2 separate regions of the Homo sapiens genome follow, and region 2 is linked to region 1. Evidence: fine-mapped expression QTL. Tissue or cell type: blood mononuclear cells. Region 1 holds a variant in brackets; the other region holds the start of a gene. All regions are shown on one strand. Distances are between the middles of the regions.

Region 1 (5,232 bases):
GCACTGAAGCAGAGTTTGAGAATTATCTGAGCATTCTTGTTGACCAAAGTGATTTTTTCTGGTGTGAATGAAGCTTCTATAGCTACATCAGCAATACTTTGTGACCTAAAAGACATAAAGAGTAACAGATGGATGGATGTTATTACTGAGCACACGTATTATATCCTTTATCATAGAGGACCCAGTACCAGCATTACTGAATTTTTCTCTCTACTCTCTATCAAAGCACTTTAGCAGTAGTATATATTTGAAAGCTCTAAGATGGCAGACAGAGATAATTTTTTTTTTAATTTGTGACTGCATCACTAACACAATACATGTTTAACATATTAGTTATTTATTATACTTTAGGTTCTGGGATATGTGTATTTACTCTTGATATGCTACTCTGAAATGATTTTAACTGATTTATTCAGTAAATATATTTTCTTGTTTTTTTAAAGTCTTAAGTATTATTCTTGAGTTTTATTTTTTCCACATAAAAGTTTCATTCTGCAATAAAAATAATGTACTTCATTCTTTAAAAGCACAAGTGAGATTTGTAAATAGTATCATTAAACTCAGAAATAAAAAATAATCAATGAATATTATTTTTCTGTTCTTCAAATATTTGTACATTTAAAGCACATTTTTTGACAGAGACAAATGAATGGAGATTCTTGATTGAATAAACAACTTCTTTCTGATTCTATTCCCTTGCCGGCCCAATATACTTATTTTTGACCTTGAATCACATGACCTTCACACTGTTCTCTCTGAATCTTCAACTCCTGTGGAGGTCAATGAGAGGTCAGCTAAACCTAAATAATGGCTTATTGTTTATGACTAATAATTTTAAAATATACCATTCAGTCACATAGAAGTTACACTTTACTTGTGTGGTCTGAATTTTCAGTATTTTTGAATGCACTCTCATGAGGTTTCCCTTCTGTATGCTGAGATAAGGCTATTTATAGGAAGATAACATTCAGAAATAGCCTGGATACCATTTCCAGAACTTTATGTTTTCTATGTACTGTTTTACTCACCATATGAGGAGAGAACTATATTTCTAATGGTAAGCAAATATATCTATTTTTCCTACTTGGAAAAACACATTTATTCCTTTGTGCAAACTATGATACATCGATTCCCTATAGTCTTATAGAATGCATGTGGCATTTCTATAATACCAGTACAGACATCTGTTCTGCTTTCTTAGCAGGTAATTTTTAGTTAGTTTGTGTCTGGCTCTTCCTGACTCACCAGAGTTGAACCACTTGTCCAAAGGCACCAATAGACACATCGGTGATGGAATCCCCATTTAAATCTCCATAGCCATCCAAGGACCTCCCAAAGTACTGGAGATGGCTCCTAAAGGCTCCATCGGATCCCAAGATTTTCTAAAAGAGCAGGTTTGACACGAAATTATAGTACACAACAGCTGAACCAGAAAATGGCAGCCTCTGAATTTCATTATTATATTTTCTATATAGTAATGTCCCAGATTGTGTTTATTCTCTACAAATTCTAAAGATTCATTTTTTAATCACATCTTATTATCTGATCTCTGCATCACTCTTACAGCCACATTTTCATCGAAGGGACAGCATAAATCTTTAATAAAAAATCATAAACCAGTGAAAAGATCAGTGGACTTGGAGCAAATTGATGCAAGTTCAGGTACAGGGTTAATTTCCTAGTTCTTTTCCTTCCAGTCTTACTCCAAAATTGGCTGCTCAGTGAGGCCTCATTAGTCACCCCTTCAACCACCTGATACTCCTATTGCTGAAATTTTATTTCCTATTTTAGTTTCATTTGCTTTTTTAAAAATTCCTTTATTACTATCTGGAATACTTTATCTTATCTACTTCTTTCTTTTTATTTGTCTCCTCCAATATAATATAAGGCACACAAAGATCAGAATTGTGTCTGTCCTGTTCTTATAGCATCCCCAGACTCTAGAACAGTGCTTGGGCACACAGTAGAGGCT[C/A]ACTTTATATTTGCTGAGTGAAAGAATGAAGTTACAAAATAAGGCGGACGGATTGCATGGTTTACATGACGCTTTCTATGTCTAATATGATAAGACCCACAAATACATACATCACCATAACAGCTCATGGATTACCTGGGAATACTTTGTGCGGATAGTGCCCTGATGACCATTGTAAATGTATACAGCTCCAGAATTCTGATTTTCTAGTGGTGAACCAACAATCACATCATTAAAGCCATCCATGTTGATGTCTGAAAGAGCTGCAATTGCTGAACCAAATCGAGTGTTTTCAATGCCCTCGGGGCCTTCAAGAAATTGGTGCTGACCCAAAATGCCCTTGCAAAGGGGAAACAAAAGGATGATTAAAGCAAACCTTACAACTTGTATAATTAAAATTCAGAGCAGCTGGGTGTGGTGGCTCATGCCTGTAATCCCAAAGACTCCAGAGGCTGAGGCAGAAGGACTACTTGAAGCCAGGTATTTGAGACCTGCTTGAGCAATAGTGAGACCTTGTCTCTATAAAACATTTTTGTAAAAAGTTAGCCAGGAGTGGTGGCACACAGCTGTAGTCCTAGCTCTCAGGAGGCTGAAGTGGGAGGATTGCTTGAGCCTAGGAATTAGAGGCTGCAGTGAGCTATGATCACACCAGTGCACTACAGCCTGGGTGACAGAGCAAGTCCCCATCTATTTAAAAAAGTGAAAGAAATATGATAAAATAAAAAAGAAAATAAAATTCAGAGCAATCGATGACCAAACTAATTTTTTAATATTAAAAATGGATAGAATTTTAAACCTGAACTATTTATGATCAGAATTATAAATAAGAATTTCAGTAAGGTCATAAATATCTGCTCATAAACCAAGGTCAAAGGAGATAATTCTCTTTACTGTAGCTGAACAGCATCCATTTCTTGGTCTCATTTTCCTCTCAATAATACGATCTTCATCTATTTCCAACCTTTTGATTTAAAATTTTTCTGGTGAAAATTACTAATATCTTGAATGAAATTAAAGCAGACACAGAACAAAATAAAACACAATATCTTAATTTAGGCTTTCTGTAAAAATTACCAAATAGTGACATAATTATAGTGGTACAGGAAGTAGAAAATGAGATTGTTAATATCTCCATTATTAAAAACATTAAATAATTCTGTGCAAAGGAAAAGACGTTTCCTTGTAAAACACAGTTTTTTTCTTCAATTTTATGATCAAGTATGGAAATATTTCATGACTTCACAAGAAAGCAATGTTTCTCAACCATGAAACTGGGTCAGTGTTCTTTCTCCTCTAATATAATCTTATACAAATTTTTACTGCGTTTGACACGGTATTAAAAGATCTGTTCATTTTCAACAATTAATGATAATTCAGTATATCTCACAAGTAAGAAATATTTAAAGAAGGGGGGATTTGTCAGTTTTTCAACAAGTAACTAGGTCCAGCCTTTGTTGATACTCAATTACACATTCTTTATATGTATAATTGCTTTAGAATTGTTTTAATTAATTACTTCTGTTAAAAGATTAATTTTTACATAAATATCAATAAATCAGGTGGTACAAAATATCACAATACTTAAACATAGTATTTACTATTTTAACATCAGCTTCTCCTTTTCTTATATACTAAGGAGCATATAATTTTCTATGTCAATCTGTGCCTTTAATTTGGTTTTCTTTTTTTATTTCATGGAGTTCACTACACTTATATACATGGATTTAGAGAGTTCAGTCCACAAATTGGAAAAATTATGCTTTGCCATGTTAATGTATGGTGTTTTTTTGTGGAAGGACTTGAAACTTCAAGAGTTGGATACATGCCTAAATGTTACACTAAGCAATGACACTTCCTGACAAACTAATGTAGGAAGCATCTGAGATCACAAGGAATTTACAAAGTGCTTGGTAAAACTTCTGTTTTTCACTGTCAACTGATAACAAGAAAGCATTGCCCTGTTATTGTTGTCTTTATCGCAAAAAATTACATGTGATACTAGAGAAATACACAAATGTTTGTGTGTGTGCATATTTCAATAAACGATGTGCACTTATAATGGCTTTATTTGCATAAGAGACTATATATTCAAAGACCTCTCATGGAAAATGGCAGTACACTATACATTCAACTCTAGTTTTTCCTGTTAATGTGATTTTTAAAATCATAACTTAATGGGGACATCCTCAAAAATGATGAAATGTAAACCATACTATCTGTGCAAATTATCATTCAATAATAATAAATTTTTCTTTCCAAATGCAAGTTAAATTACCAGTACTAAAGCAAATTAAACTATTAGTTTATTTTTTTTTTTTTACCTCTTTGATAGTAAACAGGTAGACTCTTCCTTCCTCTTTCTTTAGGTCACTCATGTACATTGGTGCACCTACCAAGAGCACGTCTGTAATGGTGTCTTTATCCACATCAACTGAACACAGCACACTACCAAAATAGGAGCCAATCTGGAGTAATAAAACATGTTAAACTTAGAATTCCTAGGATTCATATACTTCTAATATTACACTGAACATTTACTTGCTCATTCAATACACAAAAATTGAGTGTTTACTATTTGCAAAGTGCTTGGAACATGAAGACAGAGAGCACAGTTCCTTCCCTCAGGTTCTAACACCATCTAACACCTGGTTCTTAAATCTTAGTGTGCACAAGAATCTCCAAGAAAATGCCTTTGAAATACAGATCCCTGAGACCCATTTCTAGAGATTCTGAAGTAATGTCTAGGATGTGATCCAGAACACAGCAATTTAAATTAGCATTCCAGGTGTTTCTGATGCCAGGGGGTCAAAGACATACTTATAAGGCAAACCTTTTGTAGGTATGTGAGGTTTGTCATAGCAAAAGGCAGGAGGGGTAGAGGCAGGGAGAATAAATAATTAAGCTTCTATAGTAAAATAAATTGTAATAGAGGCAAGTCCCAAAGGCTGAGTGATCAGAGAGCAGGAGAGTCAGGAAGGCTTAGAAAGTTAAAATATCATTCAAATTGCAAAGTAAGAAGGACATGGAGTTTTCTAGGCAGAGGGAAGTGGGAAAGCACATATGATGATGTAAGTGTACATGGCATGATATGAGACAGGTAAGTAGTTGCTGGATAGATTGGGACAGGAGGACAAGGTGGAGATAAATTAAAATAAGAAAAGCTGAGACTTTGAACCTTCATCCCATTCAACAACGTTCAATGCATGCCTATGTGAACACTTTTTGAGGATTTAGAAATGACTAAGAAATGATTCCTTCCA
Region 2 (5,232 bases), 45 kb before region 1:
CGACCCAGGAAGTCCAGCTGGCTTCACCTCTCACAAGCAACGTTATGTTTCTCATCTTCTAACAGAGCGTTCTGTGAAGGTCTGAGATGCTCCTACATTTCTAGTCTCATGGAATCTCGTCTTTTTTCAATCTGAAAACAAAATGGAAATGTTTTTGCCTCAACTTGTTTTTTTTCTTAACCAAATAGGATTCCTTATGGTAAAAATAACTGGGAAAATGGTGGCTCCAACTATGTTTTCACAAAAAATTGTAGCTTAAGTGAAATGCAAATGTTCATAAAGTCATTTTGCTATTACTAAAATAATTTATATACCATTGTGATGATTCACTGATTTAATTAATGAATTCATAAGAAAAGTAAAATCAAAGCCTATGGAATAAGCCTGGAATATTTTGGTATCAGTTTTGCTTGCATATCCACAAATTATAGATGGGGCTGTATTTTGTAAAAAAAAAAAGAACTGTGTCATATCTACAGCATAATGAATAAACGATGTGAACAGAAACTTCACAGAGAAGTATAAGTGCTCAATGAAAATATGAAAAGATTCACCTCATTAGGAATTAGAAAATAAAAAAATGAAAGCAAGGCAATATTATTGACCTATATTTACTTGAATTTATCAACAAAATAACTGGTGAAACTGATAGGATTATAAATCATCAGATTATTGTTTATTTGTAAAAGATAGTTGCTCCTAAAATATTTTCTAAAATAAAGAAGATTATGAAAAATATTAAGAAACCTGAATTGATATTTTGTAACTATATGTTCCCACTTTGGACAGTTTCCATTTTTTTTTAATATTCTGATGTCATTTACATTTTATTTTATAATCATATCCCATAATTGATATCTTAGTTTTACGTTTGAATGGGTTAAAATCTCAATGCCAGTTTTTTTAGTTTTTCATTTTTCCCATATTAATACCTTTATTGCTGAGTTATTTACTTTGATTACTCTTGATTGAGTGGACTTTTTGCCCAAGAAAGATTTTTAAGAAGGGTTCTTGGGTATTGTGTTTTTTGAGTTTTTGCTGATTTAGGAGAATCCTGCCCCACCAGTTTGGCTGTAATATTATGGGATCATGCTTTTGTTCTCAGCCTTTTTTACACACTGCACATTGCCATCAGATGCCACTGAGGAGTCTAAGGCCACTATTGTCATTCCCTTGTTTTTATGCCTGGGTGTGAATATAGTCTTTATCCTTTATGTTTAGCAACTTTACCAGGATACACATTGGTATTCATTGCTCCTTGTCAATTTTTCCTACCAAGGACTCTCCAGCCTCACTTCTCATCACCTCCTTTGCTGGAGGCACACCTGCCTTGCCAACTACTTGCCCTTCTGTGAACTTATTATGCTTCTTCATATCCCTGTGGCTTGTCAGAGGCAAGTGAAATTTCTTCGTGCTCTACTCCCACTCTTGTCATTTACTGCCACCATTCTAGCAGATTTACCTTCTCAGCATCTTCTCACTCCCCAGGTGACACAACCACTTTCCCCTTCCACCCTTGAAATGTAACACAGATCCTTAGTATTACAGGGAATTATCATTCATATTTAAAACTCTCCTACCCAGGACTGTGAGCTCCAAGGAAAGGGACGTGTAACTTACATCCACTTAACGACGCAAGCAATTTAAAGCCAAGAGTTCTTGTTGGCAAGAATTGGGAAAGTTGGACGGACAGTATACAATTACCGAGCAGCCAATAAACAGGAAAAGTCATACAGTTCGAATGTTCTGACCAGGCGGATATTCTGTCTTTAAGAAACACTAATCATATACCTGGGAAAGAAAAAAATCTTGGGCCCCTTCAAACTGGGAATTACTCAGGGCAAATCTGCCTCCTATTCTATCCAAGTCACCTCTTTTGCTGACAAAGAATAGATGCATATTCTGATTGCCTCCTTTAGAAAGACTTATCAGAAACTCAAAAGAATGCTACTGTCTATTACCTACCTGGAAGCCCCCAGTTGGGGGGGGCGGGGCTTGCTTTTAACGGTCTCCGCCTTTCTGGAAGGAACTAATGTACTTTTTACATATTGATTGATGTCTCCTGTCTCCCCAAAATGTATAAAACCAAGCTGTGCCCTGACCACCTTGGGCACATGTCCTCAGGACTTCCTGAGGCTGTGTCACGGGCATGTCCTCAACGTTGGCAAAATAAACTTTCTAAGTTAACTGAGACCTGTCTCAAATTTTCGAGGTTCACATACCGTAGGTAAAAGTGTCAGAAGCCTAAAGGTGAGCCAGTGGAAAAGCCTGAAGACCCCTGCAAGGTTATTAGCTAAGCCTCCATAACGCAGGCGGCAAGTGTCCAGGAGTCTGGCGTCTGCTCGCCTGCACCACGACCTCCCTCCTGGGGAGAAGGACATGCATGGTAAGCCATTTCTCCATTTCCATACTGATTGCTTCCTCTCACCACCACGGCCCATCTGCGAAGCAAAACTAATCCTGGCGTGGAACAGGCCGCCTGAGGGAAACAGCTAGAGCCCGGCGCGGGGCGGAGCTGGTTGTGCGCATGCTCCGTGCAGGCGCAGGCGGGGGCTGAGCGCCGTCGGGTTACGCCTGCGCTCCGGGTGAGCCCGCGCCTGCGCCTTTGCGGCCGTGATTCGGTCCCGCTGTCCTAGGCGGGATGGTGCCGCTGTGCCAGGTAAGGGTGGCGGGTGTGCGTGCGGGCCTGGGTGCGGAGCCCTCCTCGACGTGTCTCTCCCGCCCTTTCCCTCCACATACCCAGCCTTGGTCAGTCGGACCTCCCCACTAGCCCCCAACCTGGCCGGCGTCTTGGGTTCGGGGGCGCCCCCGCCCCCGCCCCCGGGCCCTTCCTGTCTCCGGGCTTTACTGCGACTGCCCCAGCAGAAGTCGGGTCCTCTCCGAGAACTCTTGTCAGCTCACGGCAGCAAGGACGGACTCGTTCTGAAGGCGCCTCCACCTTTTATGACCACCTCTTTCCCAGATTATTCGTTTTGATGAAGCTAAAATTTTAATCTAAAAAGAAATGCACCTCATGGAGAATTCTTGTGAAGAACTGTGCTTCATCTGTGGATTTCTACACCCTTGATCATTTGCAAACCTGTAATTATTTCGTAAAGAGTTGTTTGCACGGAGTGACAGGTGCCTATTTTACTTCGTCGGATCCCTTACATACCAGGCTGCTGGCACAAGTTTGTTCTAGCAAATTCCAGTCTGTCGTGTGTTTCAAACCTACTTGCTTCTGTAAATGTCAGATTTACTATGTTGCATAACTTAATCCTTAGCGTCTGGGGACGATGTTATACAGACCGGAATCTAAGGTCATTTGACAACCGTGAGAAACAGGTTTTTCGCTTATTTATTCATTTATTTTATTTGTGTAACTCATCTCTTGACTCAAACATTTGTTCTTTGCTTACATATTTATAAAAGGTGCTATACTTTTATGTCAATTAAGGCAGGCTTAACATGTTTTCCTAGAAGATAAATACTTAGGATTTTAATGATGGCACACTTAAGTTTGTAAAACTAAAAGGCATCCAGAAATTAGTCTGAATTGTATTTAAAACAACAAGTTTTCAGAATTTGAACTTGTAGGTATACTGAAATTTTTTACGGGTTATTTAATTTTCTTTATAAAATTTGTCTTTGATTAAAGCAATACATTTGGAAAATGAGAAAACTGCTCAACATTGACAGTCAGAAAACGAGTATGAGTTGTTATTAAAAGCATTTTCTTTACTTTCAGGTTGAAGTATTGTATTTTGCAAAAAGTGCTGAAATAACAGGAGTTCGTTCAGAGACCATTTCTGTGCCTCAAGAAATAAAAGCGTTGCAGCTGTGGAAGGAGATAGAAACTCGACATCCTGGGTAGTTAAAAATTTGTAGAATGCATATGAGTAACACTTAGATATTTTCAAAATACATAAATGATAAAAGTAAAAAGGTTAATTTCGATTTCCGTGCTTAATGTCAAAAAGAATCGTTAGTTGTATTTTTTTTGGAACACCTGAAAAACTCTAAATGTGCACCGTATTTTAAGAAAGGTTAAAGATATTTTACCCCAAAACACAGTGAACCGCAGAGGGACATGATTATATTCTCTTTGATAATTTACAAAACACTGCACATGTCACTTCTGCAATTTTATAACATTAAATGAAATTGTTACAAATTCTGTTAAAAATGTGTGCTTTAAACATTTTGTTCTGCCCCTCTCTTTAGAGAGCTCAACATAGAAATTTCTAAGATTGAAAGAAAAATGAGTTACAACAAATCCTAGATGCTGCTGAATTTGAGTTTTTGTAATATTTAATTTTTTTTCTGGTTCTTGAAAAACCTATAATTTTACTTATGTCATTCCCACTTCAAGTTCTTTTTGGAACAAAATATAAAAGTGACTTATTTGAGGGTGATTCAGGAATATTAATGGTGTTACTTAGCTTGTATAGGTGTTTAACCTGGAAGTCCTAGTTCTGTGTAAAAGATACTCCATAATAAGTGTTTAAAAGCAAACCACTTCATGATTTCGTATCTTTTAAGTTGCTCTTACAGTGGCCTGATAATCAATAAAACACAGTGGGGTCTCCCATTCTGCTTTACCTGGAGGGAGACAGCAGGTCTTGTATACGTTTTCACTGTGCCTGAAAAGAAAGCTTACCATTGTTCAGGTATAAAGGAACAGCTAATAAAGCTGTGTTGCAGGTGGCTTTATGACCTATGCTATCTTTTTCATCTTTCTAAGCAACTTAATCCATATTCGAGTAGGATAATGTGTACAGGCATAGTTTGTGGGCAGTTATACTTGTGCTTGAACACATGGATAGAAGGACCCTGGAAAGGCCATGTACTGATTGGAAACTTTTCTTTTGACCTGGTTTGAGTGTTGCCTCCAGTCTGGTGGGTTTTTTGTGCATTTTTTTGTTGTTTAATTCCCCAAGGCATACAACATCCAATAAAGAGTTGACAGCAGTTTAACGTATCTTTGTGGTGTATAAGTATGTTCTTCAGTGGATATGTCCTTTCTCCATATACTATGTGTAAATTTAATTGGTAATTTTGCAGGTGATGCTTTATATAATTATATCTATGTAATATCTCTAATTGCAGCTGAAGCGATTTGAGGTCTATCATAGCGTTGATACTTTGAGTCATATTTTTTCCCCTTTAGATTGGCTGATGTTAGAAATCAGATAATATTTGCTGTTCGTCAAGAATATGTCGAGCTTGGAGATCAGCTCCTCGTGCTTCAGC

The links. PIP is the estimated chance that this variant, and not a neighbour inherited with it, causes the effect.
Region 2: MOCS2-DT starts here. The variant in region 1 is fine-mapped to the expression of MOCS2-DT in blood mononuclear cells (TOPMed, PIP above 0.99). The same link has a PIP of 0.9 or more in whole blood.

The regions. Positions count from the first base shown.
Region 1 is chr5:53,061,991-53,067,222 of GRCh38, reverse strand. ITGA2 (integrin subunit alpha 2) reads right to left here. Exons shown (of 30, transcript NM_002203.4): 13 at 4,294-4,437; 14 at 2,108-2,311; 15 at 1,246-1,382; 16 at 1-105. Among named protein-coding and RNA genes, the nearest start is that of MOCS2, 45 kb to the left of the region's middle. The variant C/A (reference allele first, on the strand shown) is at 1,973.
Region 2 is chr5:53,107,139-53,112,370 of GRCh38, reverse strand. It overlaps MOCS2-DT (MOCS2 divergent transcript), which reads right to left and starts at 2,529. Exons shown (of 2, transcript NR_104654.1): 1 at 2,223-2,529. It overlaps MOCS2 (molybdenum cofactor synthesis 2), which reads left to right and starts at 2,614. Exons shown (of 7, transcript NM_004531.5): 1 at 2,614-3,120; 2 at 3,728-3,849; 3 at 5,150-5,232. The coding sequence starts at 5,197. RefSeq lists a silencer at 2,586-2,875.